Regions from separate parts of the Homo sapiens genome. Here region 2 is linked to region 1. Evidence: fine-mapped expression QTL. A gene starts in region 1. The other region holds a variant in brackets. All regions are shown on one strand. Distances are from middle to middle.

Evidence for each region. PIP is the estimated chance that this variant, and not a neighbour inherited with it, causes the effect.
Region 2: its variant is the best candidate, but not a certain one, in a credible set for the expression of TRAFD1 in whole blood (INTERVAL, PIP 0.52).

The regions. Positions count from the first base shown.
Region 1 is chr12:112,123,161-112,127,557 of GRCh38, forward strand. It overlaps TRAFD1 (TRAF-type zinc finger domain containing 1), which reads left to right and starts at 2,400. Exons shown (of 12, transcript NM_006700.3): 1 at 2,400-2,458. RefSeq lists enhancers at 2,125-2,419, 2,397-2,446, 2,857-2,926.
Region 2 is chr12:111,909,553-111,913,949 of GRCh38, forward strand. No RefSeq gene overlaps it. Among named protein-coding and RNA genes, the nearest start is that of MAPKAPK5-AS1, 69 kb to the left of the region's middle. The variant T/C (reference allele first, on the strand shown) is at 2,405.

The sequences.
Region 1 (4,397 bases):
CTACTGTTGGGAACGTTTAGTTGTGCAATCACTTCGGAAAACAGTTTGGTAGTTTCTTGTAAAGTTAAAACATAGACTTACCGTATGATCCAGCAATCCCACTTCCAAGTGTTTATCTGAGAGAAATAAAAACATATATCCCCAAAGACTTGCACAAGAATGGTTACTACTGCTTAAACTAGAATCAATTTTTTTTTTTGAGATGGAGTCTTGCTCTGTCACCCAGGCTGGAGTGCAGTGGTGCCATATCAGCTCGCTGAAACCTCTGCCTCCCAGGCTCAAGCAATCTTCTCACCTTAGCCTCCCAAGTAGCTGGGACTACACGCATGAGCCACCACGCCTGGCTACATTTTTGTATTTTTTGTAGAGACAGGGTTTTGTTATGTTGCCCAGGCTGGTCTGGAACTCCTGAGCTCAGGCGATCCACCCACCTTGACCTGCCGAAGTGCTGGGATTGTGGGCGTGAGCCACCATGCCTGGCCAAAAACTAGAACCAGCTCTAATGTTTGTCAGTATAAATTGTGGCATATCCATGTGCTATGCTACTTGGCACTGAAAAGGAATAGACTTGATATTATCAACAGCATGGATAAACCTCAAAAACATTATGCTGAGTTAAAACACCTTATTCATAAAAGAACACACTATATGGTTATCTTTTTTCTTTATATATACTTAATACATTAATATACTTAATTCATATTAATACACATTTTTTCTGATTGCTTTTTAACTGTTAATGATTGTGCTTTCTTTTGAACTCCAGTAAGTTTTGTTATTAAAATGTAACATACAATGTAAAGTGCTTAAGATATAGGTGTGTAGCTTAATAACTATTTACTAATTAATCCATCTGTGTTAATCACTTTGCTGATCAAGATATAAACATTTCTAGAAAATCTTTCTCATATCTCCTTACAGGCTATATACCCTCTGAATGGAACCAGTTACTTACTTCTCTCACTTTAGGTTAATTTTCCCTGGTTTTAAACTTTATATGTTTGGAATCACACAAGTTATATTGCATATTTAAGCTAAATATTTTATCTTGTTATAAATATTGCTTTGAGACGGAGTTTTGATTTTGTTGCCCAGGCTGGAGTGCAGTGGCTCAATCTCGGCTCACTGCAACCTTCACCTCCTGGGTTCAAGCGATTCTCCTGTCTCAGCCTCCCAAGTAGCTGGGATCATAGGCGCCTGCCACCACGGCCAGCTAATTTTTGTATTTTTAGTAGAAACGGTGTTTCACCATGTTGGCCAGGCTGGTCTTGAACTCCTGACCTCAGGTGATCCACCAGCCTCTGCCTCCCAAAGTGTTGGCATTACAGGCGTGAGCCACCGCGCCCAGCCTGTTAGATGCTTTTCTTGCTTAGTACTATCTCATTAACATTTTGCAATTATATTATATTATATTATATTATATTATATTATATTATATTATATTATTTTTGAGACGGGGTCTTTCTCTGTCCCCCAGGCTGGAGTGCGGTAGCATGATCAGGGCTCACTCCAGCCCTGCCTCCTGGGCTCGAGGGATCCTTCCACCTCAGCCTCCCAAGGAGGTGGAACTACAGGTGCGTGCCACCACGCCTGGCTAATTTTTGTATTTTTTTTGTAGAGATATGGTTTCATTATATTGCCCAGGCTGGTCTCTAATTCCTGAGCTCAAGAGATCCACCCGCCTTGGCCTCCATATTTTGCAATTATAATCTGCAATGGAATCATAATTTTAAATTGCTGTATTGTTTGTAATATGTGCTTGGTTATACTTATATAATTATAAGTTGGTTTGTAATATGTGCTTGGTTATACTTATATAATTATTCTCTCCTTTATTATACATGAGGTAAGAGAAGCTCAGGGAATCCATTCAGGCAGCAAGTGGAGAAACTAGCTCTCAAACCTGCATCTCAGGCTCTCATTCTTCCACTGCAAAAAAGCAAAGTGCTCAAAAAATATGGTCACAGATCTGCAGAAGTCTTGCACAAGGGCATTATCATAGCAATAAGAATGACTAATAAGTATTAACGGCCCATGAGAAAAGAACAAATACCATTAATTATCTCAATATATTAAGCATATTAGTAATGTTTGTACAGAATTATTCATGCAAATATTATTAGCCTGTGTCGGGGACAGTTGCTAAACTCAGCAACAGGCTCACAGCTCAGCTTCGTGCCTCTGGTTCCAGATGTGCAGGGGCCAGGGCTTCCAGGGACACGCCCCCGTGGGCCTCCAGGGAGCCAATCGACGCGCAGAAGGCGGGGCCCTGGGAGCGACAACGGTGTTATCCAATGGGCCGACAGCTGGAGCCGCCCCTGGCCAATGGGCGCGCTCCTCCGCGATGGGCGGAAGTGGTGAGGCAGCTCTGAGGGCCGTTGTTCAGTGCGGGGTCTGACAGAGGAGGCTCCGTGTCTGCAGCTAGTGTGTCAACTCAGCGTTTCTCCTCTCGTCCCTGGTGAGGTGTAGCGGCGGCACGCGGCTGGAGATCCCCTGTGGCCTCCAGTTTAGGAAGGGTCCAGCATCCCAAGGGAGGGGTGTGTGGGCGAGGGGTCTCTGGGCCCGGGGTCGCGGCTGTGAGGAGAGGATGCCCGCGCGGCGGCATCTCAGGCACCTGGAGGAGGCCGCGCTTTCTCCTCAGGGAACCGGCGCCTTGGCAGCCCCCGGCGACGCCGCCCCCTTCGCGGCCTAGGTTGGTCTGGTGAGCCGGGAAGCGGGCGTCGTTCGCAGCGCCGCTGTGACCACCGCGTCCCGGGCGGAGCTGGGCTCAGTGCCGGCCTGGGCCTAGAGTCCGAGCCTCGAGCTGCCGGCGTGGGGGGTCGCGAGTGGCCTAATGCGGCCTCGAAGCCGAAGGACCCGAGTCCGAGCTCGCACTCCGACCCGCTGGTGCTGTGGAAAACTCAGGTGGCCTTCCGCTTTCGTAGCCTCTAAAGTGGGGACCAAGACTTTCACCTCTTAGGATTGTAGTCGGGATTAAAAGATTTTCCCGGTAAGCGTTTGGCAACTGCTATTATTTGAGAAGCCGCTTACTTCTTCACTCCCCATCACCGACCTTCCTGGGGACGGGGGCGATTGGAAACTGCCTTGGGGTATCTGGACCCGGCAGGGGAAGCTCCGCCGCCTCGGGCAGAGGGACGGTCCCCTCTGCGGACTAGAGAGATCTAGCTGACCCCCAACAGGCTCCTTATAAGCTTGAAGACTTTTCTGTGCCTCAACTCTTCCGTGCATTCGCCCGTTTCCTTGACCCTTTGAAGTATTGTCAGTCCTCTGCCTGAAGAATCTGAGGCCCAGAGAGGTTAAATCTGGCAGAACCAGCCAGACCTTGACCCCCAGAGGGGGACCCTGCAGGCTACCCCCAGTCTCCTTGCATCTAGAAAAGCAAGCACCTGCTACATCTGAGCTCTGGCCTTAGAGTTGGCCAGAGTGGGCTGGAATAGAGCACACCTGAAATCAGTCGGACAGCCTTCCTTAGTTGCCATTTCATATCAGAGTGAATATCTTTTTTTTTTTTTGAGATGGAGTCACCTTCTGTTGTTCAGGTTGGAGTGCAGTGGCGAGATCTCAGCTCACTGCAGCCTCCGCCTCCTGGGTTTAAGTGATTCTCTTGCCTCAGCCTCCTGAGTAGCTGGGATACAAGCGCCCGTCACCACGCCCAACTAATTTTTGTATTTTTAGTAGAGACTTGGTTTTGCCATGTTGGCCAGGCTGGTCTCGAACCCCAGACCTCCAGTGATCTGCCCACCTCGCCCTCCCAAAGTGCTGGGATTACAGGCGTGAGCTGCTGCGCCCAGCCCAGAATGGGTGTCTTGAATTATGTCATTCCCTAGTTTAAAGCCCTTCAGTGGTTTACCATTGAGCTTGGAATCGAATCCAATATTCTTTCTGTCTGATATGACAAGACCTTCTTGAGTCATTCCCCTTTTTTATTATGCTCTTCCAGATCTGCCTTTACTTTCTCTTTCATTGCTTTTAGGCCTTTTGCCCTTCCCACTGCCTGGATGGATTTCCCCGCATTCCCATCCTCTATCTTTGTCTTTTCGTGGTTGGCTCTTGTACTTCAGTTCTTAATTTAAATGTCGTCTCCCCAGAAAGTTCTTCCCTGACCACTCTTATCTACCTAAAGTAGATTTGCCTCTATTCCGCCCCCATTTATTTGTCAGTATACTTTTCCATCACAATACTCAAGTTATATGTATTTTTTTGCTTATTGTTTTTCTCTACCACTAAATCGCTTTATCAGAGACTATATTTCCTTATTTTGTAAAGTATTTTTAGTGCCAGGGCACAGTGGCACACAGTATGGTCTTCTTTTTCTTTGAGACAGGGTCTCACTCTGTCACCCCGGCTGGAGTGCAGTGGTGTGATCACAACTCACTCACTGTAGCCTCGACCTCCTG
Region 2 (4,397 bases), 210 kb before region 1:
ACTAAAATTTATATGGAACCATAAAAGACCCAGAATAGCCAAAGCTATACTAAGCAAAAGGAACAAATCTGGAGGAATCACATTACCTGACTTCAAATTATACTGCAGAGCTATAGCAACCAAACCAGCATGGTACTGGCATAAAAACAGACACATTGACCAATGGAACAGAATAGAGAACCCAGAAACAAATCCACACACTGAGTGAACTCATTTTTGACAAAGGTGCCAAGAACAGGAAAAGACAGTCTCTTCAATAGATGGTGCTGGGAAAACTGGATATCCATATGCAGAAGACTGAAATTAGACCCCTATCTCTTGCTATATACAAAAATCAAATCAAAATGGATTAACACTTAAATCTAAGACATTAAACTATGAAACAACTACAAGAAAACATGGGGAAAAATCTCCAGGACATTGCTCTGGGCAAAAACTTCTTGGGTAATACCCTACAAACACAGGCAACCAAAGTAAAAATGGACAAATGGGCTCACATCAAGTGAAAAGGCTTCTGCATAGCAAAGGAAACAATCAACAAAGTGAAGAGACAACCCACAGAATATAAGAAAACATCTGCAAACTATCCATCTAACAAAGCATTAATAACCAGAGTATATAAGAAACTCAAGCCGGGTGCAGTGGCTCACACCTGTAATCCCAGCACTTTGGGAGGCCGAGGCGGGCGGATCACGAGGTCAGGAGATCGAGACCATCCTGGCTAACACGGTGAAACCCTGTCTCTACTAAAAATACAAAAATTTAGCCAGGCGTGGTGACGGGCGCCTGTAGTCTCAGCTACTCAGGAGGCTGAGGCAGAAGAATGGCGTGAACTGGCAGGCGGAGTTTGCAGTGAGCCGAGATTGTGCCACTGCACTCCAGCCTGGGTGACAGAGCAAGACTCCATCTCAAAAAAAAGAAACTCAAACAACTCCATAGGAAAAAATCTAATCTGATCAAATAGGCAAAAGATTTGAATAGACATTTCTCAAAAAAAGACACACAAATGGCAAACATGCATATGAAAAGGTGACTGTTCACTAATCATCAGAGAAATGCAAATCAAAACTACAATGTGATATCATCTCACCCCAGTTAAAATGGCTTATATCCAAAAGACAGGTAATAACAAATGCTGGCGAGGATGTGGAGAAAAGGGAGCCCTTCTACACTTTTGGTGGGAATGTAAATTAGTACAACCACTATGGAACTAAAACTAGAGCTACCATATGACTCAGCAATCTCACTGCTGGGTAAGGAAAGAAATCAGTATATTGAAGAGATATCTGCTGCACTCCCATATTTGTAGCAACACTGTTCACAACAGCCAAGATTTGGAGGCAACCTAAGTGTCCATCAACAGACAAATAGATAAAGAAAATGTGGGCTGGGTGCGGTGGCTCATGCCTGTAATCCCAGCACTTTGGGAGACTGAGGTGGGTGAACTGCTTGAGCACATGAGTTTGAGACCAGCCTGGGAAACATGGCAAAACCGTGTCTCTATAAAAAATACAAAAAATTAGCCAGGAGTGGTGGCATATACCTATAGTCCTAGCTACTCTGGAGGCTGAGGTGGGAGAATCACCTGGGCCCCAGAAGTTGAGGCTGCAGTACATGTACACAACAGAGTATTATTCGGCCATAAAAAGGAATGAGATCCTATCATTTGCAATAACATGGATGGAACTGGAGATCATTATGTTAAGTAAAATAAGCCAGGCACAGAAGACAAACATCATATGTTCTCACTTATTTGTGGGATCTAAAAGTTAAAACAACTGAACTCATGGAGATAGAAAATAGAAGGATGGCTACCAGAGGCTGGGAAGGGTAGTTGAGGGTAGGGGGAGGTAGGGATGGTTAATGGGTACAAAAAAAAATAAAGAATGAATAAGGCCTACTATTTGATAGCACAACAGGGTGACTATAGTCAGTAATAATTTAATTGTACATTTTAAAATAACTAAACGAGTATAACTGGATTGTTTATAACACTAAGGATAAATGCTTGAGGGGACAGATACCCCGTTCTCCATAATGAGATTATTATGCATTACACGCCTGTATAAAACCATCTTATGTACCCCATAAATATATATACCTACTATGTACCCACAAAAATTAGAATTAAAAAAATTAATAAACTGCTTTGGAGAAAATTTTCTTAAAAAAGAGAGATGAGGTCTCATTCTACTGCCCAGGCTGGAGTGCAATGGCACAATCATAGCCCTGAAATTCCTGGGCTCAAGCAACCCTCCTACTTCAGCCTCTTGTGCTAAGTATTTTTATTTTTATTTTTAGAGATGGAGGTCTCTGTTACCCAGACTAGTCTTGAACTCCTGGCCTCAGGTGATTCTTCCACCTTGGCCTCCCAAAGTGCTGGGGTTACAAGCATTAGCCACTG[T/C]GCCCAGCCAGGTAGGATGCTTTTTGCCAGTCCATAGCCACTGCACAATCCAAAATCTTGTTCAGATACAATATTGTTAATTTTATAAAGCTCATTAAGTAAATTTTGAATGTTCATAAACCCCAAACTCCAGCCAAATAAGGCTGAACCCCTTTAGGATAGACTGTGGCAGGGAAGGATGAGTTTTAATGGAGGCAGGAATGAATGAGCAGGTACATGGAACTTGGGATCTTAAATGTCTGGGTTCAAGAGTCAGAGTTCCCTTAAGCATGAGTGAGAATAGTCTGTTCTGCATGGTGTGTTTGTGCCTCTAGGAAGTATAGCCTTTCTCCTGGTTCCTCTCCCCAGTGTGTTGGGGAATTATGAGGAATGTTTACGTGTTGTCATTGGTAGTCACTTGTGACCCAGCCAGGTGCTGCCCCAAGAGACTCTGGTGTTGACTGGTGACTTCTTGCCATCCTTTATCTGCCTTCTCTGGACCGCTTTTGTCTTCTCTGTGCTGCCTCAGGCCAGTGGAGAACCAGGTCCTTCTTTTACTTACCCAAAGCACCGCCAAGTTCAGGCTCTAGTTTTATCTAGACTTGAGTTAAACAAAGGGAATGACGATATGGGAAAGAAAATACATTTGGATGTTACAGATATGTGTGTTCCTGGAGCCCAGGGGCCAAGCCCCTCCCTGGGGGACTTGGATTGGTGATCTCTCTCCTTGGCCCCAACCTGACATCTTTTCTTGTCCTTTTAGGAATGTCTGATGGAAATTCCTCCTAACCTGGGGTCATACTCCATTTCATTCTCTGGGCTCAGTGAGAGGGAAAATTTTTTTTTTAAGTAATTTACTGAAAACCCAGATCACACCATCATAAATTCAGATAGGTGCAATTCTGCCCACAATGAAGGCAAAGTGTTACACTAATTTGAAAACAGTTTAGCCTCTTATTCCCCCAAACTTCATTCTTGAATTTTGTCATTTTTTGTGGGCAAGCTGTGGGAAAGGGGCACAAAAGTATCACTGAAGTATTTTTTCAAAAAAGAAAAAAGGCAGTCTTCCTCTACTAATGAGAATGCAAAATGTTGAACAACTGTAAAATGTTTTCACCCTGCTTTTAGACATAAAGCTTTAAAAAACTGTGAGGTCTTTTATCACTTCCCCATTGTATATGTAATATGGCTCCAGATAATTACTCTGCCACGGGGAGAAAATCTTCCATAACTCTCCCCTATATATATGTATACTCCACCACCTTATCTTGTTATGTCATGGTGGTGGGAGTATTTATACCACAGAAACAGGCAAATGATACAAATCTGGGCTTCAGGCTAGGCGTGGTGGCACACCCCTGTAATCCCAGTATTTTGGGAGGCTGAGGGGCAGATCGCTTGAATCCAGGAGTTCAAGCTCAGCTTCGATAACATGGTAAAATATAATATAAAAATATAAAAATATAAAAATTACCCAGGCATGGTGGCTTGCGCCTGTAGTCTCAGCTACTCGGGAAGCTGAGGTGGGAGAATCAGTGAGCCCAGGCCAAGTCAAGGCTATAGTGAGCTGTGATGGTGCCACTGCACTCCAGCCTGGGTTACAGAGTGTGACCCTGTCTCAAAAAAAAAAAAAAAAAAAAAAAAAGACCCAACAAACTAATCTGACCTCAGTTCATTTGTTTATTTTCCTATTGACTTCATTCTTTAAATTTAAACATTTACTTTTAAGAAATATTTATATGCTAGGAACTAAATGGTTAAAGATAAAAAACACAGATTCTGGATGTAGAGAAATTAGAACCCACATGCACTGCTGGTGTGAATGTAAAATGGTGCAGCCACTTTGAATCAAAGCTTGGTAGTTTCTTAAAATGCTAAATAAATGCAGAGTTATCCTATGACCTAGCACTTCCACTCATATATGCATAATATACCCAAGAAATACAAAAACATATCCATACAAAAACTTGTACATGAGTATTTATAGCATGTTACTTATACATTAAATGAAAAC